Linked DNA regions of Homo sapiens. The protein of the gene in region 3 interacts with the protein of the main gene of each other region in a pairwise test. Each region holds a gene or a part of one and is shown on either strand. Other genes may lie near its edges. The genes, in order: ING4, ZNF180, PEX1 and SEMA4C.

Region 1 (7,408 bases), on a different chromosome or scaffold from region 3:
GATGTAAGACTAGAGGCTGGCCCTCCCAGATAACAGAGAAAAGGGAGCCCCAAATGCAACCAGCCTCTTGTTCTATTCTTGCCTGCAAAAGAACAGAGGTTTCTCAAATGCCTCAGTCCCTGAGAGCCATTTCTTCCCCTACATCGTCTCACTTTGCTTCCTATTGACTGCTGGTAGAAGGAGATTTGGGGTAGGGGCTAGACCTCCTTTTATTTGAAGGGGGCAAGGGCTGAGATGTGGTCCCCAAGGGGCCAGAAATTCCCAAGTTGGTCACAGGTGGCTTAGAAGTGTGTGTTATGGTTTTACGGATTTCCTTGAAGCCTCTCTCCTTCTCTGCCTACAAAGACCCTATACTCTCAGTCTCCCCAACCCACCCCCAAGGAGCTGTGGGAGGCTTTGTGTTATCTGTGAAACTCCAAAACAGGGGTGTTGCGGAGAAGGGAGAGTTCAAGGCAAACGCAAGGACTGGACTTAGCTCCCTAGGTGCCACAGTCAGATGCCGGACACGGATTTATATATAAATATATATATATAAATATATTATACTCACTCATCACGGCCATCTTTGTTGTAACCATTTCTGTGTTTATAAATGCATTATCTCTGAGAATTTTCATATTTGATGTTTTGTTTATTTTTGTCCTTTTTTTCCCTCTCTCCACCCCTGTCCTCTAGCCACAGCATTTTTCTTTTTGTCTTTTTTTTTTTTTTTTAAATCATGGCAGATTTCAGAGGAAAGGAAATTAAAAAAAAAATCAGGAAACCAGTTGTTATAAAGTAATTTAAAAATGAAGAAAAAAAGAAAAAAACTTATGTACAAACCAAGGGGTGTTTTTAGAACATTGTATAGAAATAAATTCATGTAAAAGGATCAGAGGCAGTGGAGCTACTGATGTGAGCGAGCATGCGGAAAAGGTATTTGGGGAGATGTCCAAGAACAGTACTGAGGATTTATACCAGAGTGTGTGTGTGATGAACAAGTGCTTGTGTGATGATGCCCCATTTGTGCAATTCTCCAGTCATGGAAGGGTACAGTTTCATGATGTCTCCAGTGAAATCCTGGTTTATGAGGACTTCTACATACACATTCTGTCATGGGGATTGCATTGCCTAAATATGTGAGAGCAAGGCTTTGGTTATGTGTTAACAAAACAGCTAAGCTCCCTATGGAAGAAAAATGGAAGCCTCTTGAAAGGACCTACACTCCTGCCTGAGTCTGTGGAAGAGGGGCTTGCAGTTGGCAATGTGTATACATATGTGTATTTGTTACCTTGTGGAAATCATAACCGGTTAAGGGGTGCAAGATTGATTTATGCAGGAGAGCTGTAGTACTATGGAGTAGAATGTGGTCATGAAACCTGGACTTCAGCCCTTTGCCTACCATCAACCAGTGTTGGCCAGGGTGCTTCTTCAACTGTTAGTGAAGGGATTGGACTAGATAACTCTGAAGATACCTTTTTTGAGAATTAAGTAACTTGCTTTAAGGCTGGGTGCGGTGGCTCACGCCTGTAATCCCAGCATTTTGGGAGGGCGAGGCAGGCAGACTACTTGACGTCAGGAGTTCAAGACCAGCCTGGCCAACATGGTGAAACCCCATCTCTACTAAAAATACAAAAATTGATGGCCGTGCACGGTGGCTCACGCCTGTAATCCCAGCACTTTGGGAGGCCGAGACAGGTGAATCATGAGGTTAGGAGCTCGAGACCAGCCTGGCCAGTATGGTGAAACCCCGTCTCTACTGAAAATACAAAAAATAAGCTAGGCATAGTGGTGGGCGCCTGCAATCCCAGCTACTCAGGAGGCTGAGGCAGGAGAATCTTTTGAACCTAGGAGGCAGAGGTTGCAGTGAGCCAAGATCGTGCCATGGCACTCCAGCCTGGGCGACAGAGTGAGACTCTCTCTCAAAAAAGTAAAATAAAAATACAAAAATTAGCCAGGTGTGGTGGCACGCGCCTGTAGTCCCAGCTGCAGGCTGAGGCAGAAGAATGACTTGAACCTGGGAGGCGGAGGTTGCAGTGAGCCGGGATTGCACCACTGCACTCCAGCCTGGGCCACAGAGCGAGATTCTGTCTGGAAAAAAAAAAAAAAACAAAAAAAAAAAAACCTTGCTTTAAGCACCGAAAAAGTTGTGAAAGTTGTGACCAAGCTCCCACATCCTGAGAACTCTGGGACTGCTGGCCAATAGTACTTGTTATGTAGTTGGGCTGGGATAAATAAAGCCCACTTAATTTAGTGCTAGATATCCTGTGTGGGCACCTAAGATGGTGTCTCAATATGTTGTGTAATACCAATGAATGTATCACATATGACCAAATATGCCAATGTTTCTTAGCTCCCTGCATATTTACTGCTTTTTCCTCCCACTCTCACCAACTCTTGAAAAGGCCCTAATGGCCCTAACTTCATCACCAGTATTAGAACTAGAATCTACTCTTTTTATGGATACACTCACACTCACTTATTCCAACAACCCTATGAGGGAGGTAGTAGTCTCATTGTATAGTAAAACAGGCACAGAGATCAAGTTACCGAAAAGCATGACTTTTGTAATTAGAGCAGTTTCCCGGATTCTATTGCTGTATCTTACTACCTGCACACTAGTAAACCTGGGGTTTACAGGCTACAGATCCTTTCAGCTCTGATACCCCCACCACTCTACAGCCCCTGAACCCCCTCCTCCAGCCTGCTCTTACTGTCCAGATAATGTTTCAAATACATCCCTGCATCCATCTCGAAGCAAAACAAAGCAACTTCCAATCCGCCCCGGGTTGGAAGTTCCTCTTCTCCACATATTTGGTAGAAATTATATAGCTGAAAGTCTGTCTCTTTAAAAACTTGCCGTAAGACATTGGTAATTCTTATGAAGGATGTGTGAGGGTACGAAAAGTGTGAGGGGTGGCAGCTATCTCTAAAATACTATCTTACTAACACCACTATTAGGTTATGGCCTTTGTGTTGGCAGTGTGTTGACAGCCTAGTGTGTTGGCAGCCTCTCATACCCTTGACTGCTTCCCATTCTGATGAAAACCATAGAAATCACTCTACCATAGCTGACTAGAGTGATGGCTAGCAACTAACTAGCCAACTAGCCCAGTAGTGATACTGCTGCATCCCTCAATCCCTTCAGAATTATGATGCTAACATCACATATAAACAAAAGGAAAACAAAAACACGAGATTTCCCCCTTAGAGAGTAGCAAGAGGGGCCAGGCACAGTGGTTCGCACCTGTAATCCCAGCACTTTGAGAGGCTGAGGTGGGCAGATCACCTGAGGTCGGAAGTTCGAGACCAGCCTCACCGACATGGAGAAACCCCATCTCTACTAAAAATACAAAATTAGTCTGGCGTGATGGTGCATACCTGTAATCCCAGCTACACGGGAGGCTGAGACAGAAGAATCACTTGAACCCGGGAGGTGGAGGTTGCGGTGAGCCATGATCACGCCATTGCACTCCAGCCTGGGCAATAAGAGTGAAAATTCTGTCTCAAAAAAAAAAAAAAAAAAGCAAGAGGGCAAGGCAGGAAGTAATATTTTATATGTGAAAGTGTATTCTAGTGTAACGTACAGGAGCTCTGACAAAAGATGTGCAGAATTATAGCTTTATTATGAGTCATTCTTTGTATTTATAAGTAGAAAGGTGATCATCTTTCTCAAGTTAAAAAAATAATGCTGGGGGAGATGGTGTTTGTGTGAGTGAATAGAAATTCAGACGGTTTAAATGTCTCAAGGCCTGATACTCTTCCCCAACTTCCTTAAGAAACTAACTGGCTTGAAAAAAGTCATTCTGCAAAAGAGGGAAAAAAAGTTGGATCTTCCAGTTGCTGAGAAGGTATGTTTACGCAATATGAGCCTAAAGTGAACAGTTACCCCTGCACGGATTACCATACATTCCCGTTTTGGAGGGAAAAAAGTTTGCTAGAGAATGCAAAATGGCGACCTCCAGTGACGTCATACCTGTCTCGGTCGCGTCCTGGGGTGTCTGTAAGGGCGGAAGCGGGCTACAGCCGCCTCACTGTGGGCGGTCGTGGCTACCATGCAAAAGGAAAAGTTTCAGTGTCGGGCGGATGTGTACCGGCGGTAATATAGTAAGGGCGGAAGTTCTCCTTTAAGGGCGGAAGTTCTCCTTTTAAGGGCGGAAGTTCTCCTTTTAAGGGCGGAAAGGCTTTAGCCGCAAAATGGCTTCGGCCCCTGTCGCGTTACAGTCACTTCCGGGGCGGATCGGAAGTTGCTTTGTTTTGCTTCGAGATGGCTGCGGGGATGTATTTGGAACATTATCTGGACAGTAAGAGCAGGCTGGAGGTGGGGGTCGGGGCTGCAGAGTGGTGCGGGGATCAGGGATGAGAGGATCTGTAGCCCTTAAGTTCCAGTGACGAGAAGGTCACAATTATGAAGCGGTTCTGTGGCAGGAAATATTGGAGGGTGCGGAGAAAGAGGGGGCGGGGCAGCAGGATCGAGGCCCCGCTGATGGGTGTAGACGAGGGAGGGGTGCGGTGTGGGGGTTAGAGACGTGTCTTGAAGGGCTAGTGTGCATGGCCAGGAAGATAGTTGCTGCCCCCATTCTCCAGGGTCTCCAGCCTCGGTAGATTTTTTTCCCCATAGTCGTTCAGAATCGTTATCACACACTGCCATTTGGAGAAGCGGTAAAGACCTCTCCTCCACTCCATTCTTCCTCAAAAGTGGCTTCTCATGGGGTTGAGAGTGGTGGTGATGAGTGACCACTGTCAGATGATGAACTAGAACGCTTCTCTTCATGGAGTAAAGATCTAATTCCCATCAAATGAAAATCTGGTGTTTATGCGATTTATGTAAACCACCCCTGCAGAAAGCCTATTGCTCTGTGCGCTTACATTTGTTTTAGGGCCCGGAGTCATTTATTCAACAAATATTTATTGAGGTCCTGCTATGGGTCAGACATAATGGCAGGCACTAGGGATAGAAAAATGAGTAAGACAAGGCTCCTGCCCTCAAGAAGCTCACGATCTAGTAGGAAACAGATTCTGCAAATAATTATAAAACACTGTGACAAGTGAGATAATGGAAATACATTAAAAAGGACACTTGGTAGGCAACCCTGGAGAAAAGGGGGGTAATTACCTGGGGATGTAGGAAAAGCTTTACAGCGGAGGTGATGTTTGAATAGGGTCTTGAAGGTTATTTGCCAGTGAGGAGAGAAAAAAGGAATTCCAGGTTGGGGAAAGCATCCGCAAAGGTACTGTGATGGGTTTGTGGCAAGGTCAAGGGTGTTTGATATTTATGACTCAGAGGTCAGCGTATTTGATATTTATGAATCTAAGGTAAGAAATTGAGAAAGGAGACTGGAGAAAGAGGCTGAGGCTAGATTGGACAAGGTCTTTTAAGCCAAACGAAGAAGTTTGCATTTTAAAGTAGAGTATGATTTTTATAGAGGAAAATGACTAATATATGGTAAATTGGAGCATGATATTGTTGATAACAGAGATCAATTAGTGATAACATTCCAGGACAGAGATAAGAACCTGATTTTAGGGAGTTACAGAAGTATTTAGGAGTTAAATATGAAAGGACTGACTGAATGACTGAGTGGTTGAGAGAGAAGGAAGAATCTAAGGTGGCTTCTTCCTGCTTAGAAAGTGAGGTAGACAGGCTGGGCACAGTAGCTCATGCCTGTAATCTCAGCACTTTGGGAGGCCAAGGCGGGCAGATCACTTGAGGTCAGGAGTTTGAGATCACCCTGTCCAACATGGTGAAGCCCAGTCTCTACTTTAAAAAAAAAAAAAAATTAGCTGGGCATGGTGGCATGTGACTGTAATCCCAGCTACTTGGGAGGCTGAGTCAGGAGAATCACTTGAACCCAGCAGGTGAAGATTGCAGTGAGCTAAGATCATACATACCACTGCACTCCAGCCTGGGTGACAGAGAAAGACTCCGTGTCCCTCTCAAAAAAAAAAAAAAAAAAAAAAACAAAGGCTGGTGGCCAGGCACGGTGGCTCATGCCTGTAATCCCAACACTTTGGGAGGCTGAGGCAGGCGGATCATGAGGTCAGGAGATCGAGACCAGCCTGGCTAACATGGTGAAACCCCGTCTCTACTAAAAATAAAAAAAATAGCCAGGTGTGGTGGTGTGCCCCTGTAGTCCCAGCTACTTAGGAGGCTAAGGCAGGAGAATCGCTTGAACCTGGGAGGTGGAGGTTGCAGTGGGCCGAGATCATGCCACTGCACTCCAGCCTGGGCAACAGAGTGAGACTCCGCCTCAAAAAAAAAACAAAAACAAAAAGGCTGGGAGCGGTGGCTCACGCCTATAATCCTAGCACATTGGGAGGCTGAGATGGGTGGATCGCCTTAGGTCAGGAGTTCCAAGACCAGCCTGGCTAACATAGTGAAACCCCGTCTCTACTAAAAATACAAAAATTAGCTGGGCGTGGTGGCAGACGCCTGTAATCCCAGCTACTTGGGAGGCTGAGGCACAAGAATTCCTTGAACCTGAGATTGCGCCATTGCACTCCAGCCTGGGCGACAAGAGCGACACTACACCTCAAAAGAAAAGAAAAGAAAGTTACTCAGCGGAGAAAAGATCATGCCAACTGCTGCAGAGATATTTTTTAGGATAGGCTTAATAACACCATTAGATTTGGTAAATCACCAGTGACTCAGTCTTGTGAACTGGTGGTAGCAGACCTGAAGTTGTAGGTTTAAACAGTAGAGGCATTTTATTTTTTTTTATTTATTTTATTTTAGTTTTTCTGTTTGTTTGTTTGTTTTTGAGACAGAGTCTCACTCTGTCACCCAGGCTGGAGCGCAATGGTGCGATCTTGGCCCACTGCAACCTCTGCCTCCCGGGTTCAAGTGATTCTCCTGCCTCAGCCTCTTGAGTAGCTAGGATTACAGTGCCCGCCACCATACCCAGCTAATTTTTGTATTTTTAGTAGAGATGAGGTTTCACTGTGTTGGCCAGGCTGGTCTCAAACTCCCAACCTCAGGTGATCCACCCACCTTGGCCTCCCAGAGTGCTGGGATTACAGGCATGAGCCACCGTACCAGGCCTTTTATTTTTTATATATATATTTAATTTTTATAGAGACAGGATCTGGCCATATTGCCCAGGCTGGTCTCAGACTCCTGAGATCAAGCGATCTACCTGCCTTGGCCTCCCAGAATGCTGGGATTACAGGCGTGAGCCACTGTGCCCAGCAAGTAGAGGCATTTTTAAAGTTTTAGGTGGAGTCTTGGCAAGAGATTTCTCTTGTACTGGGGTGACAAATATTCATGCATTTATTCAAGTATTTACTGAGTACCTGCTCTTTGCAAGTCATAATTCTAAACACTATGGAAACAGGAGAGAATATGATAGCCATGTTCGGCCTGGGGAGACAGATACCAAATAACTAATTACACATTATTTTTTTTAATTTTTTTGTTTTTTGAAACAGT
Region 2 (8,092 bases), on a different chromosome or scaffold from region 3:
GCTGCACTGAGAGAAGCCCCAAGTACAGCATGAAGATGTAGGTCTGCCGGAACCGCTGGGCCCCCCACCCCCATTAGCCCCTGCTCCCAGGATGCAGGATGCATTCCCATAGCAAATGCACTTCTGGAGGTTCCTGCCAGCTTCCTGCCCAAATACCTGTGTATGTACTGAGAGTCCCTCAGTCCCTCTCCCAGGTCAAGTTTCTGCAGCTCCAACCTGGTTCCTCCACCATCTTGGGCCCCTGGACCATCTACCTGTAAGCCCAGCTTGTGCCCAACATGGCCTTCTGCCCACCACCAAAGTCTGCAGCACCAGTCCATCCCTCTCCTATTCACTGGGCCCTGGGATCCCCACAAATATCAGGCATATTGAGGACCCCCTGGTGTTCACCCCATCCTACCCCTACCAACCTCAATCTACAGCCCCAAACCAGCACTTCTTCCTAGGGCCAGAATCACACTCACTGCCTAACTGCATGAAGCTGGTGACACAGCTCCACTGCTCCCAGGAACTGATTCAACAACTAAGACTGATCCTACCGTTCCATCAGCCAGACCTGTCCCTCCAGCAACTCAGCACAGAGGGCCACCCACATCCTGCTCAAATAGCCAAGCATTTATGCACAGAGCTCAGCTATACCCACATCCTGTTCCCTCCACACTTCTGGGGTCCACTGGCTCCTACTCGAACAGCACCAGCCAGATTCCCACCCTAACACCCTCCCAGGCCCTGAATTTGTAGCTCTAAACCAGTCCCTCCACCAACTTGGGTATACTCAGGCCTGAAACTACAACAAGGCCTGCATAGGGCTGGGGGCCTCCAACAGACACCAGCACAAGCCAGACAAAAGCAGCCCTACCCAGGCTCTAAATACATGTCTCAGAAGCTCAGGTGCCTCTGTACCAACTAGGTGTTTTGGGATCCAAGACTAGAGGGCAAATCCTACCCTAGGCACCCCACCCTCTGCACTCCATCTCTCCCACTTACTCTCTCCCCTGCTCCCACCATATTCTCACGCAGCATAGCGTAGGTTCACAATGCAGCTGTTTCCTGAAATTGCACCCAAACTGTTTCCTCCACCTTACTCCACAGCCCCCTGCTTGAGCCACACCTGCCCAGATTCTGACCAAACATCTTTCGGGGGCACCTGTGGCTCAGGAAGATCCTGTCTTTCCACCAAACTGGGCACCATCAGGCTGTGATCAGGGTTCCAATCACACAAAGACCCCAGCACCCTCTGTCTAAAACTCATCTCCGGCCTCCTGTTTCCCAACCAAACACCGGTGTGTGTGCACAAGGGGTGCCTGACACAGTCCCGCCCCTCTGCAGCTGCTCCCCCCCACACACCTGGGCATCCTCAGGCAGAATCAGGGTCCTAGGACTGCCCATGCCTCCCCAATCTGCCCAAATGCCAGCACACGTGCAGAGTGTTGCTGGAGCAGCCCCGTGCCTCCTAAGACCAGATCCAAACTGGAGCCCCCAGGCCTCTATTCCACAGCCACTGCACACGGGCCACCCACCTAGACTCCCTCCTACTGATACAGCCACAGAGCAGGTTCGTGCTCACAATCTGCATCCAGGACCTGGCTCCTCTGCCCGTCTGGGGGCACACCATGCTCCTGAGTCAACAATCTACATCCCTCACCCTGTGTCTCAACCTGCCTGGGACATCTCAGGTACCCACAGCCTCTGTGTAGGTTCTGGGGTCAACTGCCCCACTATTTGCCCGCAGCCAGGACACTACAACAACTAAACAGTAGCTTGAGCATACAGCTCCATAATCAGCCCCAGGACTTGGGCACTCGCCAGCGTGGGGGTTCTCGAGCCTACGATACAGCAGCTCAATGGGAACTGGGCCCTTTGTCCTTCTCTTGCCCAATCATGACGGCCTGGGTGTTGTGCAGTCAGCTCTTCCCGGGACCAAATCTGCAGCACAGGCTCTGTCCCTCTACTAACCTGCACATTCTCACGCCTGCAAATAGCGTACCCAAGTAAAGGTCTCAGCAACACCTGCTTCATAACGATGCTGGCAACATACTGCTTCCTCCCCAGCTACCAATTTGATGGCAGCTGTTGCAGCTCTGTCCTTCCTGGACTTAAATTCTGTATCTCCAACCCGGAGTCTCTGCCCATCTTGAATGCTCTAGAGCTCTGCACTATCCTACATAGGTCCCTACTATCAGTTCAAGTTTCTGTTTTCCATTCAGACACCCCCAGGACGTGCAGGGGGCCCTCTGCCCAGAACCTGTTTCTAGGCCCTGATACCCTCCTTCAGCCTGGGAGTTTGCTGCCCATGGGTAATTCCCACCAAGGGTTCACTAGCAACACTGCCTCTTCTGGCACAAGAATCTGCAACTCCAATCTGGTCTCTCCACCAACCACAGCGCCCCCAGACCTTGGAGAAGCGCGTTGTCTGCTCTAGGGGCCCAGAGCCACCTGCTCGGAATCTTACCTACAACCTTTTGCTTCCTACCCAAATACCTGATCAAGAGTAAAGGGACAGTGGCACAGCCCCTCCTCTCCAGAAACCACAATCTGCAATGGAGCACTCCATCAACCCGGACATCCTCAGGCCTCCACTAAATAAGCCCGGCATTGGAGGAGGGGAGTTCTCAAGATGTCCCCTTACATCAATGCATGTGCCCTGTGTTCCAGCAACCTGGGCATCCTCAGGCCCCAGACAAGAGCACCACCTGACCAAGCACCCGCGCATGCACGCAGAGGACAGTCGCGGAATATACAGCTGTATCAGTAACTCCATCAACCCCGGTGACCCGAGGCTAAAGCGCCACCCGCACAGATACCAGGTCTCCCCGCTACACTCACCACCGCTTCCAGCTTCCCGCGTAGACCCTGCGCATGCGCGCATCGGACACCAAGCGCTGCCCCACGCCCCTACCAACCTGGGCGTCCGCTGGCCCGCAGCCCAGGCTGGGCCTGTCACCGCCTCAGTGCCTAGCACGGCTCTGCGGCAGGACGAACTCGGGTTAGGCAACCCCCTGCCCCGATTCTGCAACACGGCCGACTCGGGTTAAGCTAGTTCGGTCCCCTCTCCTAGTCAGCATCCGCAAGGCCGCTGGGGGTTAAGTCTGAAGGGCCGAGCTGCTCGGCGACAGCAAGCGTCCGCGCGCGGGACAATGGCTGCTCTTGTGGCCGAACCCGGAAGTGCACTTGGGCTCGGAGAGCCAGAACTACAATTCCCAGAAGCCTCCGCGGCGCGGACGGTCAGTAGGCGGGGTTCCGGCTTCTCCAAGGAAGTGGGGCGGGGGACCGGGCCAGAAGCTAAGAGGGCGTCCTCGTCCGGGGCCCGGGGGGGCGCCACACCTGTGCATGTGCAGGTCTAGGGGGAGCACTAAGACCAGCCGCGGCGCCGGGAGGCCGAGGCCAGTGCAGCGACGCATGGGGAGTCGCTCTGGCGTGACGTCAGAATCCAATAGAAATGGCGGGGACCCTTTCTGGGTGCCCCCTGCCTGTCAGACGCTGCGCGCGACCCCTTGTCTCCTCTAGTCCTAGGGGAAACCTGTGAGACAGTTGCGACATCCCCATTTTACAGTGGAGGGAGCGTCTACCGAACCCTTCAGGAATCTATGTTTTTACATTTAATAATACTAAAATATAATCATTTTATTTTTAAATTTTGAGTTCTTTCTCTGCCTATAAGGCCTGAAGGATCTGTTCCCCCCACCTCTCCCCTTTTCTCTGTTTTTGTTTTGTTTTGTTTTGTTGTTTTGAGACGGAATTTCGCTCTTGTCGCCCAGGCTGGAGGGCAATAGCGCGATCTCGGCTCACTGCAACCTCCACCTCCCGGATTCAAGCGATTCTCCTGCCTCAGCCTCCTGAATAGCTGGGATTACAGGCGCCAGCCACCACGCCCGGCTAATTTTTGTATTTTTAGTAGAGACGGGGTTTCACCACGTTGGCCAGGTTAGTCTCCAACTCCTGACCTCAGGTGATCCGCCCTCGGCCTCCCAAAGTGCTGGGATTACAGGCGTAGTCCCCTTTTCTCTTTGCCCTCATTTCTTGCCCATTTGCTTGGCACATTTTCCCCATTCTCCAACAGATCCAGCAGACTCCAGCCCCTGGTCGTTTGCAGGTGCTCTTTGCACTCCCTAGCAGCCTCTCCTGAGGGATTCATTTGGCTCTCACCGTCTGGTAATTAGGGGAATATCATCTTCTCATGAGGCATTGCCCCACCACCCGTTGTGAACTTGCAAGCAAACGCTTCCCTCCCCACATGCTCTGTGCCTCCCCCTTCATCTTTTATTTTTTTCTCTAAAGAACTTTTCACTATCTAGCACACTATATATTTTAATTATTTATTTGGTCTACTGTCCGACCTACCACTACGATGTCAATTCCATAAGGAAAAGCATTTTATCGATGTTGATCACTGCTGCATCCCCAACACCTAAAAAAAAAAAAAAGAGAGAGACCTGGCACATAATAGATGCTCAATAAATATTCGTTGGCTAAATAAAGGTTCCTGTCTCTGTATTAAACACTTTAATATTTCATTACCAAGCCCAATCAGCCTATGAGGTAGTTGTGTTAATTTTCATCCTACCAGGGAGGTAGCTGAAAATTGGAGCCCTGCTGTATGAAAATACATAATTTTTTAGTTTTTAAAATGCTTGTCAAAGCACTCCTGTAGTTTTCTTCACGTAAATTCTGACCTTTAAAAACAATGAATTATTACTATTTGAAATGTAATCTCTATCCCCAAAGCTTCTTATTATTGGTTATTGTGGTTGATCTTTTAAAAAATACTTATTTTGTATCTGGTTAACCTACTGCAATGTTATTAATTCTTACAATACTCCAGTTGACTCTCTTGGCTTTTCTATTGAGACAGTTATCTACAATTTCATCTTTTCCTTACCAGTATTTTAAATTAGACATTCTCTTTCATGTTGGATTATATTGGCTACCATTTCCAAAAAAGTATTACTAAAAGAGGCATTCTTGTTTGTGTTCTTTTAATGGACATATCTCTGAAGTTTGAGGGTTAAATGTGACATCGGTTTCTACATTGAAGTAAGTAGCTTATTTTTTTAACCTTTTATTTTGTAAATTTCAAAACAAAAGTAGGGACTCAATTAATGACTCCCCAAGACCTATGTCATCCAACTTAAATATTTTCACTCAGTCTTGTTTCATCTGTATTTCCACCTATGTTGTGCATTTGAGACCAAGATGTTGAACTCTAGAGTCCATGCTCTTAACTTTTACATTATGTTGCCGCTTGTCTACACATCAGTATCTTTCCTCTACGTGCAAGCAATACTAAGTTTGCAAACAAAACAGAAAAAGTTCGTATGTATTCACAAAAAAGCAAAAAAAAAAAGCCTTATAAGTAAATTTAGTAAGATAAATATGTCATCTGAAGAAACCCTCAAAACCTTACTGAGAGAGAAAAATGGACAAATAGAAATGCTGTGTTGCTAGCTGTGTGTTGTAAAGATGTAAAATCTTGCAGATTGATCTGCAAATACAAATATGACAAAATCAGAATGGGATGCTTTGAGTGTTAGGTCGTCTTCCTTTTTTCACTTCATTTATTTTTCTGCTAATTGTTTAAGATATTCAGAAAATAGGCCAGGCGCAGTGGCTCACACCTGTAATCCTAGTACTTTGGGAGGCTAAGGCAGGCCAATCATGAGGTCAAGAGTTCAAGACCAGTCTGGCCAACATGGCAAAACTCTGTGTCTACTTAAAAAATACAAAAATTAGACAGGCATGGTGATGCACGCCTGTAATCCCAGCTACTCAGGAGTCTGAGGCAGAAGAATCGCTTGAACCTGGGAGGCAGAGGCTGCAATGAGCCAAGATCACGTTGCTACACTCCATCCTGGGCAACAGAGCAAGACTCCATCTCAAAAAAAAAAAACAATTTTCAGAAAATAAAGCGTTAGTACTATGTAATGTAAAACTGACTTTGTTTATCTGTCTTTTGTTTAGTCTTTTTTATTTTCTTTCACAATGAACAAGGTGGTAATGTTTACTTCCAGGAACCTATAAATCCTGACTTAACCTGAATATTACAGGGACTTTAGAAGAGTTACCACTGCTGGGCGCAGTGGCTCACGCCTGTAATCCCCACACTTTGGGAAGCCGGAGCAGGAGGATCACTTGAGCCCAGGAGTTTGAGACCAGCCTGGGCAACATGGTGAAACCCCGTCTCTACAAAAAATACAAAAATTAGCTGGGCCTGGTGGCACAAGCTGTAGTCCCAGCTACTCAGGAGGCTGAGGCAGGAAGGATTGCCTGAGCCCAGGAAGCAGAGGTTGCAGTGAACCAAGATTATGCTACTACACTCCAGCCTCAGCGACAGAGCCAGACCCTGTCTCAAAATAAATAAATGAATAAATAAAAATTTTAAAGAGTTACCACTCAGGAACATTCTAGAAAGATGCCTATCTAATCTAGAGATTTATCTGTCAACTGTCGGGAAGAGCTGAGACCAAAGTTTATATTAAGATTCTGTTTATTGGCCATGAATTGGATAAGGGCTCAAGATACAGTGAAGAGCAAGAAGATTATGAATCCATTTACTATAAATACTAGAAAACAAAGTAAGAGTAACGAGAGGGTAAAAGGGCATGATCTGTCTCTAGGATGTCAGGGGGAGGGGGACATTTCTTGGCAGGGAAGAGGAAAGTTCTCAGGGTTCAAATAGGGTGGTGTTTCTGGTACTACTGAGTGCAACCCTTAAGATCCTAATTCCGGTCTCTTGTATCACATCTAATGATTAATTTTTAAAATCTGAATTAATGTTATCATCATTATGATAGCCATTCAGCTCCAAGGATAGCAACAACGCATTCTGAAAACTCTTCATTTCCAGGAGTTTTCAGTGTTGGTTTCCCCCTGTGTTAACAGTCCTTTTTTGTCTCCTTTGCTTGATCTCTCCTGTAAACATCAGAGGAACCCAGGAATCAGCTGTCAGCCTGTCCCTTGCCTTGTCTTCATCCACTCTGCTTGGGGTTGACATAACAGGCCTATTGCTCAAACTCTGTAAGTTCCCCAGAAGGTCCTGTTTTCCTGACTAGCCTTTGGGCAGCTCTGGGAACTGAGCTCTCATAATGTTCTATCTGGTAAGAGTGCTTTTGTTTGCCTGAGGCCTTGAGCCATGCTGTACCACTTTGTCCAGATGGTTTATACTAACAGTGTAATTTATGGAGGAACATCTGCTTTCCTTCTAGGAGTCTGGAGCTTCAGTGACTGACCCTTTATAAAAACCATGGACACCCAGGTTTAGGTGAGCTTCCCTCGATGGCAATGCTTCACACACGTTGTCACACATCATTGCTGGGGGATTTCCCATGTGCTGTGGTTTGGATATTTGTCTCCTCCAAAACTCATGTTGAAACTTAATCCCCAGTGTGGCAATATTGAGAGGTGGGGGTTTTTAAGAGGTGATTGGCTCATGAGGGTTTTGCCTTCATGAATGGATTAATCCATTCATGGACTAATGGATTAACGGGTTATCATGGGAGTGGAACTGGTAGCTTCATAAGAAAAGAAAGAGAAACATGAGCTAACATGTTACCACACTCAGTCCCCTTGGCATGTGATTCCCTGCACCACTTCAGGACTCCACAGAGAGTCCCCACCAGCAAGAAGTGCTCTCACCAGATGCAACCCCTAGACCTTAGACTTCTAAGCCTCCATAACTGTAAGAAATAAATTTCCTTTTTAAAACAAATTACCCAGATTTAGATATTCTGTTATAGGCCAAAGAAAGCAGACTAATACACCATGTGACTCCACTGAAAGAGAACACTTGGAAGCTGGTGCAGGGTATCCTCCAGACTTCACCCCATGCACCTTTTCCCTTTGCTAATTTTATTCTCCATCCTTTTGCTGTAATAAACTATAACCATGAGTATAACAATTGGGTCCTATGAATTCCTCTAGAAAATCTTTGAGCATGAGGTGGTCTTGGGGACCCCCCTGACAGAGGAGCTCATCCAGCCCCATAACTTTAAGTCCCACTGACAACTCTCAAATGTGTATCTCCAGCCATGATCTGTCTAGATTTTTATGAACAATTGCCTACTTGATTCTGCAACTGATTCTTGACATGTCTAAA
Region 3 (7,513 bases):
GGACCTATTCAGGTTTTTTTTAAGATCCCAATTTAAGGAAAGACTATTCTCATTATTGATTTTGCTATATGCAGGGAAATTTATTTCGAAAGGTTTTTCAGTTGGCTTTTAGGGAAGATTATATATTCTCTTTTTTTTTTTTTGGCCTTTTCCCACATGTTCTAAAAATGATATATTCTTTAACTCCTATGAAAATACATTGTTTCAGTAATTGAAGATGCTGATTAAAGTCATATCTCTACACATTTTTTAAAATTTGAGATAGATGGGACTTTGTCCCTTCTTACACCATTCACTTATTCACTTGGAAAAACTATTATCCAATACTTATGTGGCAGACACTGTTTCTGGCACAAGGGATTCAGCAGTGAACAAAACTGCCTTTTTGGAGTTTACATTCTACTAGTGGAAAGCGACAACAAGCAGATAGACACATTCAGTATATAATTCACTGTCAGATGGTGGTGGTAAGTCCTATGTAGGAAGAAAAGCAGGGTAAGGAGGCTTGGAGTAACTGGAGTGAGTCATAGATGGACTTGTCAGGAAAGGGTTTCTGAAGAGGTGGTATTTGGGCAGAGATCTAAATAAAATGAAGCAACAAGCCATGAGAATATCCGGGGGAAAATGTTCTGGGCAGAAGCATCAAGCATAGAACTTGTGGTATGATATTTATTCTAGCACACATTAATTTTAAAAATGTATAAAAGACATCCATTTAATCATATTAAAGATTTCCATGATTCATTTAGACTTAGTCAGAAACCAAATTTATATTTTCTTTTTAAATAATTTTATCTCAACTCTTATTTTACCCAATAGGGGCCAGAGTTACTCAGCAAATACATTGGAGCAAGTGAACAAGCTGTTCGGGATATTTTTATTAGGTTGGTAGCCTATGAATGTTTTTAAAGTAACTGACTCTGTTATTATTTATCAATCAGTGCTTTTTTTGGTCTTGTTTTTTGAAGAACTGATATTTGAAACCTGTGGTTTATGTGAATTATTAATAAGCTAGAGGACGTGGATTCTCTATTTCATCAAATAATACAAAACATTTTAGATATTAAATTTTGGAAATTATTTGGTTTTGTTTTACAATAGAAATACTCCTCAAAGTGGAATCGAAGTGGTTATTCAAAGAAATCTCAGAGTAGATTCTTATATGAAGCAAATAATTGCCCCTAATTTATCTCTAAATTTTGTAAGTTCTAAATTCTTTTTTCCCCCAGTTTCTAATTTATCTCTTATAAGTCAAGAGTCCATCTGGCCAATTTAATTTCAGTGAGTGTAACTATTTTGCATATATTAAAAAACTGTATATGAATACAGAAGATGGTATTTAAGGATGAAAATAATTATTCAAATGTGATAGCATTATGGGGAGTTTTAAAATAAAAGTTACTGTTTTATTCTTCCAAAAATTTTATTATAAAGTATACAGTTAAGAGAATATACATAAAATACATATGCAGCTTAAGGAAGAATAATAAAATGAATACTTCATGTATTCACCACCGAGTTTACCAGGAAAAAGCATAAACAAAATAAACCTCTTCCACGTAATTCCTGGGTTAAAGAGAAGTTATAGTGGAAAATATTTGGGAGCAAACGATAATGAAAATACTATCCATTAAAATTGTTAGATGTTGCAAAACTGATTTCAAGGAAAATTTATAGTGTTAAATGTTTAGAAAAGAAAAAAGGTTAGAAGTTAACCACTTATGTATCTATCTCATGAAATTAGGAAAATTATAGATATAAACTAAAAAATATGTTAAAAGGGAAATAATAAAGATAAGAATGAAGTTTAATGAAACACAAAACAGAGAAGCTCACAAAGCCAAGATTTATTTTTTGAACACCGAGTACAATTGACAAATCTCTAACAAGTTTGATTAAGAAAAAAGAAAGCATGAATAAACAATTTTAGGGATAAAAAGGGAAACATCGCTAAAGATATCCCAGAAATGTAAAAGATAATAAGGGAATATTATGAAAATATTCATGCCAATACATTTGAAAACTTAGGTGACATAGACAAAAACAAAATTGACCAAAATTGAGCAAAAAAGAAACAAAATCTGAGTAGTCCTGTAACTTAGTAAAAATTGAGTTAGAAAAGTTAAAGAAGTCTTTACACAAATCAAACATCAGACTCAGTTTTCTAGGAGAGTTTTGCCAAACATTCAAGTAGCAGATAATTCTGGTCTATTTTTGGCCCCAGAAGATATATTTTACTTGCCATGCATTTAATGAGATAGCTGTTGATTTTTTTCAATCACCGTGACAGGTGTTTTATATTAGGTGTTATTCGCCAGACATCTAGTCCACCTGTTGCCAGATATGGAATTAATATTCACTTATTTTGAATTAAAATTTGTTAATAAATTAATAAAACAAAGTCAAAGTTCAAATTATTAAAAAAGTAAAAGAAATAAAATATATTTTATAGAGAGCCCTTACAAAACAGTACCAACATAATGAGCTTTCCAAATTTTGAATGGGCAAAATAAATGAATAGGCATTTCACAAAAGAAGGAAGGGTGGCCAATAAGTATATATTAATATAAAAATGGTTACTTGTAATAGGAATCAAAAGTGTTTGACTTATTGACTAAGAGTCAGTTTTTGTTTTGATCCCTGTTAGTCTATCCAGAAGGCATGGGTCTTAATAAACACCTTGACCTCAACAGTTTACTGAATACAAGGGTAATTTCATATGCCTTGCCTTCTTTAAGGGTTTGTTGTAAAGATTAAAATAAATACATAAATATATATAAATACATTTATATGTATTTATATGTAATTACATACAACTTGCCTTCTTTAAGGGTTTGTTGTAAAAATTAAAAGAAGTATATAAATATATATAAATACATAAAATAAATACATTCATATATGTATATGAAATCACTTTGCCAACTATGAAGCCTGATTCAAATATGAAATGTTGTTTGTTTTTCCCAGAGCACAGGCTGCAAAGCCCTGCATTCTTTTCTTTGATGAATTTGAATCCATTGCTCCTCGGCGGGGTCATGATAATACAGGAGTTACAGACCGAGTAGTTAACCAGTTGCTGACTCAGTTGGATGGAGTAGAAGGCTTACAGGGTAATAATTATAAATACAGAAATAGAATGTTATAACAAAATGTCATCATGTCATCAGATTTTGGTAAAAAAATGTTCTTTTTTCCTCTAGGTGTTTATGTATTGGCTGCTACTAGTCGCCCTGACTTGATTGACCCTGCCCTGCTTAGGCCTGGTCGACTAGATAAATGTGTATACTGTCCTCCTCCTGATCAGGTGACAATTTCATATTTAGAGTCCAAAACCCAACAAATGCTACACTCTTTCCTTGTGAGCTTTACTTCTGCCAGGTAATGGCAATTGTCCTTAGAAGACCAGCTTTCTTAGGGAAAAGCTTTAGCCACTGTTTGCTCAAAGCATAAAAAGATTCTGAATTAGATGCAAAGCCTTTTTTTGGCCCAGTGCAAGTCTGAAAACTTTGTAATCCTTCTGTGTTGGCTGATTGGGGAAAAAAAAATGCAAGAAACCTAATGTATTATATTTTCACATTATCTTCTGTTCAAAGATTACATACTTCCATTATCCTGTCAAAAAAAAAACTCTGATACAGAATCAAGCATGTGAATCGTAAGCATGTAAGCAGGTTTCATAGAGATAATTTTTCAACTCTTCCTTGTCCTGTGTTGTTCCAACTCTTATTCTCCAATTTAGAAGCAAACAAATAAATGAATGAAAGAACAGATAGACAAATGAATAGTCAAAGGTATAAAGTATCTGTATATATGTTACATGTAGCTATTATTTAAATTATTTAGATTTTCCTTTTGAAATACCTTCTTGGCACACTTGCCTAAATCTAGAAAATAAGCACTGTGTGAATAAGAAATTATTTACACTGAATATTTTGTAGGTTTTTGGGTTTTTGTTTTTCAGACAAGGTCTCACTTTGTCACCCAGGCTGGAGTACACTGGTACGATCACAACTCACTGCAGCCTCTATGGCCCAGGCTCAAGCAATCTCCCCACCTCAGCCTCCCGAGTAGCTGGGACCACAGGCACACGCTACCATGCCCAGATAATTTTATTATTAATTTTTGTATAGAGATGGGGTCTCCCTGTGTTGCCCAGGCTTTCTTGAACTCCAGGGCTCAAGTGATCCTCCCACCTCAACCTCCCAAAGTGTTGGGATTACAGGCGTGAGCCACCATGCCCAGCCTTAAGAGTGTTTGATTTTCATTCATTTTCCTATATATATTATTTCTGTTGGGGAAAAAATTCCAAGGAAGATAAATAGTAGGCTGTTGGTACATTTCTCAACTTACTTATAAAGCTTTTTAGATATATAAGGTTAATTTATGAAGAAAATCATAAGATACACAATTTAAGATAATATTTTTAATTTTATTTTTTATTTGTTAAATAAATTTTTCTCCTTTCAGGTGTCACGTCTTGAAATTTTAAATGTCCTCAGTGACTCTCTACCTCTGGCAGATGATGTTGACCTTCAGCATGTAGCATCAGTAACTGACTCCTTTACTGGAGCTGATCTGAAAGCTTTACTTTACAATGCCCAATTGGAGGCCTTACATGGAATGCTGCTCTCGAGTGGACTCCAGGCAAGTTATATGAGGAAGTTGTTATGACATTTTATGAGTGATAAAAGAAGTACAATGTCAAAATTTCCACCTTAAAAAATGCTATTTTTTAAACAACTTTGGTAAAACTGTATAGAAACATAAATTTACCTTTAGTTGAATGTTCCATAGTTGGAATATGGGTTTTGCAGAGAATTTATAATTATGAAGTTTGATGTCTGTTTCTTTAACATTACCTTAATATTGGCAAAAACATGTTGGTGTTTGCAAGGATATTATTTAAATTGGGATACCATGAATTAAATACTACAAACAAAAATAATTAGAGTTTTTTGTTTGTTTGTACTTTAACTTTTAAAAAATAATCAGTTAAAGTTGTTGTTTTGAAGCTCACATTGTTCCAATCTGGCCAATAGGAGCCCCTTTTGTATGGCTCCTGTATCTTTATGACATGTCCTCATCATTCTTGAATCACTTCCTCACTTCCAGATACAGTAAGTTATTCTTGGCCAGGTGCAGTGGTTCACGCCTGTAATCCCAGCACTTTGGCAGGCCAAGGCAGGAGGATCATTTGGGCCTAGTTTGAGACCAAATCATGGTTGCACAAACTGTACCCACTATGGACAACAGAGTGGGATCTTGTCTCTGTGAAAAATTTAAAAATTAGCTGGGCATGGTGGCACATACCTGTAGTCCTAGCTTCTTGGGAGAGGCTGTGGCAGGAGGATCGCTTGAGTAAATCCAGGATGCAGTGAGCCATGCTTGTGCCACTGCACTCCAGCATGGATGACAGAATGAGACCCTGCCCCCAAAAAAGAAAAATATTCTTGGTTTATCTTGTACTTTCTGTATCCCAGCCCTAGCATCAGCCTTTTCTCTAAAGACAGTATTATGATTTTAATATTTACAGTAGATATTTGAACTGTTACATTATAGACTTTACCATATATTTTCTAGGAAGGATTATTCTATTACTCTTCTTTACCACATTTGTTTGGAATGTCTACAGAACCTACAGTTTCTAAATCAGAAACTCCCTAGGTTTTTGCTATTTTGGCAAGCCATTGAAGTTCTTCCCTCTCCCTTTACTACCAGAAAGGTGTGTATTTGTAGAGCTCTCTATAATGAGAAAGCACTCTATAACATGGTTGATTCATCATTTTGGAGTAGAAAAGTATGAATGGAAAGTCAGAGACATAAAAATAAAGCCCAGAGGTCTGAGTCTTAGCTTCATTACAGACTTTCTTGGGGGATGGTTGGTAAATTATCTACACATTCTATCTTGTCTTTATAATTTTAATAGTTAAATTTTTACCATGTGCCTCAAAACCGTTAGAGAATTAATGAGCTCTTTGAAAAATGCTTCTAAGTTTCTTGTATTGCTCTAATAGAATGCTATCTATGTTATTATTTATTTCTGAGACTAAAATTGTTTACATCTTTAAACTGGTTGTCCTTTTGTGTATTTTAGGATGGAAGTTCCAGCTCTGATAGTGACCTAAGTCTGTCTTCAATGGTCTTTCTTAACCATAGCAGTGGCTCTGACGATTCAGCTGGAGATGGAGAATGTGGCTTAGATCAGTCCCTTGTTTCTTTAGAGATGTCCGAGATCCTTCCAGATGAATCAAAATTCAATATGTACCGGCTCTACTTTGGAAGCTCTTATGAATCAGAACTTGGAAATGGAACCTCTTCTGATTTGGTATCTTGTGCAGTCATCATTATACAGTTCTGAAATATAAAGCTATATGTTGGTGTAAAGTTGCAGTGATTTCTCTCCTAACCAGCCCCACATATTCTTCCTGGTTGGTTGGTTCTTCAGTAAAATAGTCTTGTTTCTTGCTTACACTAATTGGTAATTTGCATTCCTTGTTAAGATTTTCAAGACAGGGCTGGGAGCAAGGAACCAAAGTAGCGCGTGGTTGTGATTACCTTTGGTTTCTTTGAGGTTTCTCTTACCTAGTGGCTTTAAAACATCTTTAGGAGCAGTTCCATTTTATAGTAAACTTAAATTCTGTTATCATGAACAGTTGAGGATAATGAATAATTTGATACAATAATGTAAGAAATTCCTGAAAACAAAGTGTTATCTGTGATACTTTTGCTGCATAGTAAGCACAATGAAGTGTACTGATAATGTTTCAACAGGAAAGTGTTTTGATTAAATGTGGGCAGTATCACTGTTCTACTAGCATTCAACATCTCTTCTAAAAATTAATAGTGGTTCACTGTAATTTTATTGGTACATGTAACATCTGTACATGTGTTTGGTTATCTATATGTTTCCTGGTTTTTTGTACATTTGCTTTATTAATTTAGGCTTTTTTTTTTTTTTTTTTTTGAGACAGTCTCACTCTATCATCCAGACTAGAGTGCAGTGGCACAATTATGGCTCACTGCAGCCTTGACCTCCTGGGCTTAGGTGATTCTTCCACCTCAGCCTCCTGAGTAGCTGGGACTACAGGCACATGCCACCATGCCCAGCTAATTTTTGTATGTTTTGTAGAGACGAGGTTTCACCATATTGCCCAGGCTGGTCTCAAACTCCTGGGCTCAAGCTATCTGCGTGCCTTGACCTCCCAAAGTGCTAGGATTACAGGTGTGAGCCACTATGCCTAGCCTAACTCAGACTTTAAAAATATAAAAGCAATTCATTTTTATTCCCAAGAACAGTAAGGTGGTGGTTTAATTTTAGTCTTTAATTCTGTTTTTAATTTATTCTATTTAGAAATGTCCCAGAAACTTAGTATAACTTTACTTTCTGAAAATGAAGAAACCTGTCCTTGGGCATTAGTGTGTTGGATTTAAGCAACAAAGTTAAAAAAACCTACCCTGTGTTATGGCAATTTTCACTTGATGGTGGTTCTATAACACAGGTATCAGTGAACCT
Region 4 (7,785 bases), on a different chromosome or scaffold from region 3:
TGCGAGCACAGCAGGCCACTAGGACAGGTGGGGATGGCAGGAGGGGAGCTGGGCTGTGAGCCAGGCCAGGGAGGTCCGGAGAAACCAGAGGCTCAGAGAGCGGAGATGGGGCTGGGGCCTGGGAAGTCTTGCTGCCACCCGGCATGCAGGGCACTACGACATTTATACAGTCACGTGATTCCTACATCAGCTGCCAAATATGGCTGCCGACCTGTCCTCAGGGTCCCCCCAAACCAGCCTTAGTCTTTGCAGGCAACAATGGATCCAGACACAGACCGGCATGGCAGGGCTTCACTGGCACCCGAGTGGAGCCTGTGGGAGGTGAGCTCATCCCAGGTCCCCAGAGCGCACGGCTGATACAAACACCTGACATCACCTTTCACACGGGTGTGTGCACAGGGAGCACTGCTGGGTCCCCGCTGTGCCCCGGCAACCATGCGAGCATGTGCACATACACACACACTTCCAGGGCCACCAGAGTGTATGATGTGTACAGGGCAGTAGGAGGTCTTAGGGGGGCCTGGGGAGCCAGGGGAGAGAGCCTCCAGTTTATATTTATCCCGGTTCCAGTTTCTCTTTAGGCTCCCAGCGCCAGTGACAATTCAAGAAGCGAGGCGTGGAGAGGGCGAGGCAGAAGGCTCTCCCCCTCCCACACCTGGGCAGGCAGTCTGGGGTGGGGAGTTGGACAGAGCTCCCCCAGAGGAGGCTAATCCCAGGTCCCAACCCACACTGCCCGTTCTTCCAACTCGAGTTTCTTAGAAAGCTGTGCCACACACGTGAGAATAAAGCCAGCACACTATGGGGGCAACTCCTCAGCAGCCTGTCCCTGACTTCCTCCTCACCCCTCCAGGCACTCACCCCCAGAAGACACTGTCTTACGCGGCACAAGGTTCCACCACACCTCAGCCCCAATGCCCAGGCCCCACAGCCTTGCTGCCAGCAGCCAGACAGCCCAGTGTGGGGCCATGGCGCACGCCCCGGCTCTGAGCTTCAGGCCAGCTGTCCTGCTGAGGGAAAAGACATGGTCAGAAATCACAGCCAGAGAAAGCAAACCAGAGGGGCCCGCAGCAGGAGAGGCCACAGGACTCCTCATCAGGCCTTCCAGGAGCCCCGGTGCCCTCCTTCCCCTTCTCTTTGGAGGTGGACCTAAGTCCCCACACTTGGCCTCTGCCTAAAAGACCACAGGTCTCCCTGGGAAGCGGGGAGGAGTTGAGTTGGCTGAAGGCTAAACAGGCTCCGGGAAGCCCTCCCTGGCCTCCAGACCCACCACTACCTCTGCGCAACAGGAAATCATTTGAGAAATAAAAAGGGGACCCCCGCCCAACATACACACTCAGGCCTAAGAGGTTTGAGTTTCTTGAAAGAACCTCAGGCAGCAGGCCTTGCAGCCACTGGGGCTCCGGACCCTGCCAACACCTAATTCTGGGAGGAAGACTCCTTAGGGCGACGAGGGCATGCGGTGGGGTAGGCGGTCGGGAAAGCCCCAAAGGGGAAACCTGGTGCGGCCGGCTGCGAGCGGAGGTCCCGGTCCCGGCCTGTCCCCTTCCCCAGCGCAGACAATAGCCCTGCAGAACCCCAAACCCCGTTCCACATCAGCAGGGCAGGAGTGTGAGAAGGGCCGGGAGCGAAGGGGCCCAGCTTCCCGAGGCCCCTTTGTTGCCCAAGAGGGAGGCAGGAAGTGGGTGGGATGGGCGTGGAAATGACCAGGGCCTCATCCTGTTCCTCGCACTGCCTCCTCCGAAACACCAGCCCTCTGGCGGAGGGGCGGTGGGGGGACCGAGCTCGGGTCGAGTCGGGGACTCCGGCGGCGCGCGCAGGCGACGGGGGGAGGTAGGGGCGGGGACGCGAGGGGGTTCCTCCCGGGCCGCTGGCAACGCGCCGCGCACGGCCGGCACCCGCTGCGCTCCCGCGACTCTGACGAACCTTCCCAACTCGGGGACTGCGCCCCAGGGACCCTGGCCTGGGCGGGCCAGCGGGATTGGCTTCCCCTGCTCCAGCCTTCCCGTGCCAGGGGCGGAGACGCAGAAGCTGGGGACCTGCTCACCCCCAAACAAAGGGTCCCCGCCAAGACCCCGTCCCGGGTCCCCCCGGGTTCTCCCCTCCCCCAGCTCCAGGGATTTGAACGCAAACAAAGCGGCGGCGCGGGGAGCGTGGCGAGCCCGGCCTGCGGACGCCCCCTGTCGGCCCAGAGCCCCGGCGCGGGAGAGCGGGGGCTGCGCCCCAGACCAGCCCCCCAAAACGCCCGCGGCCTCATCTCGGCTCCTTACCCGAGGATCGGGCCGCACCCCGTGGCGTGCTCCGAGGATCCGCCCGGCAGCGGTGCTCCCACCCGCAGCTCCCCCCAGGGCGAGGAAACGGGCAGCCGGGAGGAGGGGTTGGGGGGAGGGGTGCGGGATCCAGGCGGGGCACCCCACACCCTCGCCCACCCCGAGCGGCCAGCCGTGGACCGCGGCCCTCCCTGCAGGGCGAGCGCTCCAGCCGGGGACGGCGCGGCCCGGCTCGGCCCGGGGGCCTGGCTTTCCGGGACAACCCGCCTCCCCAGCGGAATGGGCGGGCGGGCGGGGGGCCGCGGCAGGGAAATCCGATCCCACAACATCGGCCTCCCTCCAAGCCCGCCCCAAACTTTCCATCGGGGGTGGGAGCGCCGAGGGCAGTCCAGGAGCCTGGCGAGGATCCCGGCCGCGGACCGGACCGCGCGAGGAACCCTCGCTGGCGCGCCCCTCCGGCCCCGGGGCTGCGGGGCTGCAGGTGCTGTGCGCCCCACTCCCGAGACCCTGCGAAGCAGCCGCGGGGGTCGCAGGAAGGATCCCCGCGTACAGCCGTCTCCGCCGCCGCGGCTCCCCGCGCCCCAGCCCCTGTCCCTCCCGCGTCCGGCAGCCCCTGCCCAAGCAAAGGGACAAAGCGGCGGCTCCGGGGCCCCGCGGCTCCAGCCTCACGCAAGCCCGGCCTCGCTCACCTATTGCGCGCAGCTCCAGTCCCCGGGCGCCGCCCTCGCGTTCGGCTCTGACCGCCGTCCACCCCTGCCCCCGCGTCGCCGCCTGCCCGCGCTCGCCCGCCAGCCCTCCGCGGCCTCTCTGCCACCGCCCCTCCGTCCCCGCCCGGCTCCGCGCCCCTAGGCTCGGGCTCCCCGCGCCACCACGGCGGGCGCCGGCTCTTTCTCCAGCGCGGCCGCGGCTCTCCGCCCCCTTCCCCTTGACGTCAGGCTGGGGGGGTCGAGCGGAGGCCGGGGGCGGGCCGCGAAGGCTCGCTCAGGAGGGGGCTGCGACCCGCAGCGACCTGTGGACCCGCCCGCTCTCCGCCCGGGGGCTCGGACCTCCGCCTCTCTGGGTGCCCGGACCTCAACCCCTCCGGGTGTCCAGCAGCCCCGGGGCTCGGAGTCGCGGGCTGCGCCACAGCGCCTGGAGGGAGGTGGGGCGGGGGAGGGACTCCGGGTATGGCCACGGGGGAATCACACTCACCCGATCTTTCTGAAGTGTCCCCCGAAGACTCCGGGCGGGCTGGGCTGGGGAGAGGGACTCCCGACCGTGCAGTTGCAGGAACGACCGCGGGCGAGCCACGTCGAGGCGAGTATCCAGGGGAGGCACGCTGGGGGAACCGAGGCGTCTTTTGGGGCGGACCAGAGGGGTCTGCCGTTTGGCCCCCAATTCTGCCTCTTTCTAGGCCCCGAGGACCACTGGTCCCTGCCCTCAAGTCTGGAAAGGGCTTCACCAGCCAGGAAGACCCTTCAATCAACAGAAAGGGCCTGCTCCTGCTTCTCACGCTTTGGGCAAAGCGCCTATCCCCAGAAAATGACTCCTCGTGCCACTGGAAGGCTGATTAACAAGTGGCATGAGCCCTACTGTTCAGATGAAAGGGGCTGTGGGGAGCCACGCTGCAGAACCACCGCCACCTTCAGAACCACCAGCCTCCGCCCACAGCCACTCCTAGAAGCAACTTGTAGCTCTGGCCTCATGGGCGGTGCAGCGTCTTTCCTGCCAGCTGGTCCTCTGAGCTGGGCAGGTGGTTAGAAGAGGTGGTCCTCATGGAGGACACCCCACGGGCACCTGGAGACAGATGCTACCTCCTGGCTAGGGGCAAAAGGCAGAGGTGAAGGGGCTTGACGTCCTGAGGTTTGGAGGTAACTTTAAGCCAGGGTGCAGTCCTGGAGGGGAGGAACACTTCAGGCTGCGTCAGCAGATCTGGATTATAAATCAGTCCGACAGCAGCTTTTGTTCTGGGTTAAAACTTGGCATCTGAAAAGTGGAGACCAGAAAAGTGGTGGAGATAATTGAGAAAAGCAGCCCAGTTTGGTTTCAGTAACAATCGGGTCTTTGCTGGTACACATAATGGCCCCTTCTCCCTTGCTGGCCAAAGCCACGTTTCCCAGCTCTTTTCCACTAGGAAAAAGAAAAAAAGCTGTGGCCTTGGAGATGCTGGAGATAATGACCATGGGGTGGGCAGGGAAGGCCTCCTGCTTCAGCTGACAAGGTGGGAGAAGGTGTGTCACCCTCGTGTTTAGTTTATTCCCCGTATCTATTCAAGCGGAGGGTAAACTGAGATGCAAGTGCCCTCACTTGTGTTCTGTGCTTTAGATTTTTGCAGCTTGTCTTGATGTACATTTTCTTACTTCACCCTTATGACCACCCTTTAAAAAGTAAGTAATTTGGGAGGCTGAGATGGGAGGATCACTTGACCCCAGGAGTTCAAGACCAGCCAGGGCAACATACTGAGACCCTGTCTCTACAAAAGAAATTATTATTATTATTTTTTTTTTGAGACAGAGTCTCACTCTGTCACCCAGGCGGGAGTGCAATAGCGCGATCTCGGCTCACTGCAACCTCCACCTCCTGGGTTCAAGTGATTCTCCTGCTTCAGCCTCCCAAGTAGCTGGAATTACAGGTGCCTGCCACCAGACCTGGCTAATTTTTGTATTTTTAGTAGAGACGGGGTTTCACCATGTTGACCAGGCATGCGCCACCATGCCCAGCTAATTTTTGTATTTTTAGTAGAGATGGGACTTCGCCGTTTTGGTCAGGCTGGGCTCGAACTCCTGACCTCAGGTGGTCCACCTGCTTAGGCCTCCCAAAGTGCTGGGATTAGCCACTACGCCCAGCCCCAAATTAAAAAAAAAAAAAAACTAGCGGGGCGTGGCGGGGAGGGGTGGCTCACGCCTGTAATCCCAGCACTTTGGGAGGCTGAGGCAGGCGGATCACGAGATCAGGAGATCCAGATCATCCTGGCTAACATGGTGAAACCCTGTCTTTACTAAAAATACAGAAAAATTAGCCAGGCGTGGTGGCGGGCGCCTGTAGTCCCAGCTACTCGGGAGGCTGAGACAGGAGAATGGCGTGAACCCAGGAGGCAGAGCTTGTAGTGAGCCAAGATCACTCCACTGCACTCAAGCCTGGGCAACAGAAGGAGACTCTGTCTCAAAAACAAACAAACAAACAAACAAACAAACCAAACTAGCGGGGGCGTGGTGGCATGCATCTGTAAGTCCCAGCTACTCAGGAGGCTGGAGTGGGAGGGTCGCTTGAGCCCAGGAGGTTGAGGCTGCAGTGAGCTGTGATTGTGCCATTGCACTCCAGCCTGTAGAGCGAGACCCTGCCTCGACAAAATTAAAAAAATAAGTATTGTTGCTCCCCTTTTGGAGATGAGTCAAAAAGATTAAACAACTAGCCCCAAGTCATGGAGATAATTAAAAAAGATTAAACAACTAGCCCCAAGTCATGGAGATAATTAAAAAAGATTAAACAACTAGCCCCAAGTCATGGAGATAAAAAGGTCAGAATTTCTTTTTTAGAAACGGGGTCTTACTCTGTTGCCCAGTCTGGAGTGCAATGGCACAGTCATGGCTCAATGTAACCTCAGACTCCTGGGCTCAAGCGGTCCTCCCACGTGAGCCTCCCAAGACTACAGGTGCACACCATCATACACGGGACAGGGTCTCGCTATATTGCTCAGACTGGAAAGTTCAGATTTTTAAATCAGGTCTTGGGACTCCCGATTCTGTTTTTCCACAGAGTCACCATCTATCCTGACAATGCTCCATTTCATGCTGTTTTTCCTCACCTTCAATACTGCTCCCCCATCCCCCCACCTCTAGGTGTGAAGGTTACCAGGAGAGACCTGAGCTCGCTGGCTCTGACTCCAAGGTGGCCTCAGTGGAAAGTTTCAAAAGGCAACCGGTTTGGTTTCACTGGCAGGGCAGCGGCAGGCGTTTGGGTTCTGGAGGCCCAGGAATGTAGAAGCCTCCAGCTAACAGACTCCACGCGCCTATCCTCCCAAACGCTCTCGGAGATAAGCTCCCAGCTCCCTCCCCTTTTCCACCTTCATGCACTTCCTGCTGTATTCTGTCCATTCCAGCACTGGCCCTTTCTGTGGGTGGGTGGGCAGAGGATACAATTTCCTGCATGACTACTTGCTCATGATTCATACTTCTAAATGAAAGTACAACTGATATAAAAAAAAGATTTCTGGGTCTTCAATTAATAAAAAAATTACTAATACAGGTACCGGGGGTGGGGGGAGGTGCACGTACCTGACTAGTCTCCCTAGGGCCTAGCATATCTATGGAAGGTATCCACACTTTGGGACTCAGGCCTTGACAACTGCTTGTGGTCGTGTCAAGGAAAGACACAGAAATTGTGCTAAATGACTCTCAAGGGTCTTCAAAGATCACCCAGCAGCTCAGGCCAGCCCCTAGAGATGACCTAAAGAGTCTTTCCTGAAAAGCAAGTCCCCCTTCCCATCTCTTGATGTTGGTTGGGGGCCACACTGCCCTTCATTTGAGCTACTCACCTACTAGCTCTCCTGAGGCAGCCAGAGGGAGGCCCTGGGTGGACACTGGGTTCTCTGGTGAACGCTGCCTGGTGGATTTCCAAGGCAGCCAGGACTGCCGTCATCCCACAGATGGGGAAGTGAGAAAGCTTGGGTCAGCGCGCCTGGGGACCGAGGTGACTAGGGACATAGGAAAAGGACTCTCCCTCCCTACTTCCTCCAAAGGAGAGTTATCAAAGCTGCCCACCTGGGATGTCTTTCCCTTCCCAGCCCCTCCCTGTCACCAGTACCAAAAGGAAGCAGGAAAACATCCGTCATCACAGCCCCGGATGCGGATTTTCCAGTGGCTCCTATCAGGATATCCCCCAGCCTTTTCCCAAGGGCTTAGGGATCTGGAAAAGTCAAAGATCTGGAGGGCAAGTGGTCACATTGCCAGCACCACTGTGAAAATCTGGACCTTGGGGAGGCTGAGTCTCTAACCGATCCCAGACTAGTTTTAGAAGATCTGGTCAGCTCCCAGCCAGTCCCAGAGAGGGCCCATTACACACCCCAGGGGACAGCATACGCCCTTGGGCGACCTCACAGTGCACACCTCTGCTCGGGTTACAGCCAGGTCTCTGGAGGGACTGAGTCGTCACCGACACCTCCTCTCCCCTTGGTATCTATTTCTCTCTTGGGGATGGGTATGTTTGGGGAGCAGTAGAGGAGGGGACAGTGGACAAGAGCCAGGACTGGGGAGGAAGGCTCCAGTTATCGACGCTGATGGACAGCTCGGCTCCTTCTCAGAGCCAGGTAGGGCCACCTTCGAGAACTGGAAACTCCCCCTGTTTAGCTTCTCAGGCCTCCCTACTTCCTCTTTGCCCTTGGCAGTAAGAACAAAGAAGGGAAATTTCAAAGGTGATTTCCAGGTTTCCAGAGAAAAGTGAATAGCTACAGATGAACTGTCAGTGCATGCAGTGTTGGAGCAGGGCAGCCCGAGGGCGGGTGAAGGAGGCTGGCTCACCATAGTCCCTGCTCGTTCACTGG

Evidence for each region.
Region 1: the proteins of PEX1 (region 3) and ING4 interact in binary tests that used the Homo sapiens proteins (3 or more experiments, as listed by UniProt).
Region 2: the proteins of PEX1 (region 3) and ZNF180 interact in binary tests that used the Homo sapiens proteins (3 or more experiments, as listed by UniProt).
Region 4: the proteins of PEX1 (region 3) and SEMA4C interact in binary tests that used the Homo sapiens proteins (3 or more experiments, as listed by UniProt).

What each region holds. Positions count from the first base shown.
Region 1 is NC_000012.12:6,659,940-6,667,347, reverse strand, and holds the start of ING4 (inhibitor of growth protein 4), read left to right. Parts: upstream 1-4,228; 5' UTR 4,229-4,246; coding exon 4,247-4,283; exon of another isoform or gene 4,284-4,300; intron 4,301-7,408.
Region 2 is NC_000019.10:44,497,372-44,505,463, forward strand, and holds the start of ZNF180 (zinc finger protein 180), read right to left. Parts: upstream 3,152-8,092; 5' UTR 2,904-3,151; exon of another isoform or gene 2,870-2,903; coding exon of another isoform or gene 2,827-2,869; intron 7-2,826; coding exon of another isoform or gene 1-6. UniProt on the Homo sapiens protein: May be involved in transcriptional regulation.
Region 3 is NC_000007.14:92,490,084-92,497,596, reverse strand, and holds part of PEX1 (peroxisomal ATPase PEX1), read left to right. Parts: intron 1-819; coding exon 820-884; intron 885-1,827; exon of another isoform or gene 1,828-2,967; coding exon 2,968-3,110; exon of another isoform or gene 3,111-3,200; coding exon 3,201-3,304; exon of another isoform or gene 3,305-4,467; coding exon 4,468-4,644; exon of another isoform or gene 4,645-6,094; coding exon 6,095-6,325; exon of another isoform or gene 6,326-6,354; intron 6,355-7,513. UniProt on the Homo sapiens protein: Component of the PEX1-PEX6 AAA ATPase complex, a protein dislocase complex that mediates the ATP-dependent extraction of the PEX5 receptor from peroxisomal membranes, an essential step for PEX5 recycling.
Region 4 is NC_000002.12:96,866,920-96,874,704, forward strand, and holds the start of SEMA4C (semaphorin-4C precursor), read right to left. Parts: upstream 3,162-7,785; 5' UTR 3,117-3,161; coding exon of another isoform or gene 2,109-3,116; intron 1,831-2,108; coding exon of another isoform or gene 1,666-1,830; exon of another isoform or gene 1,500-1,665; coding exon of another isoform or gene 1,455-1,499; exon of another isoform or gene 1,094-1,454; coding exon of another isoform or gene 968-1,093; coding exon 859-967; intron 1-858. Other genes in the region: collagen alpha-1(I) chain-like, read left to right, coding at 1,455-1,499, 1,666-1,830, 2,109-3,116.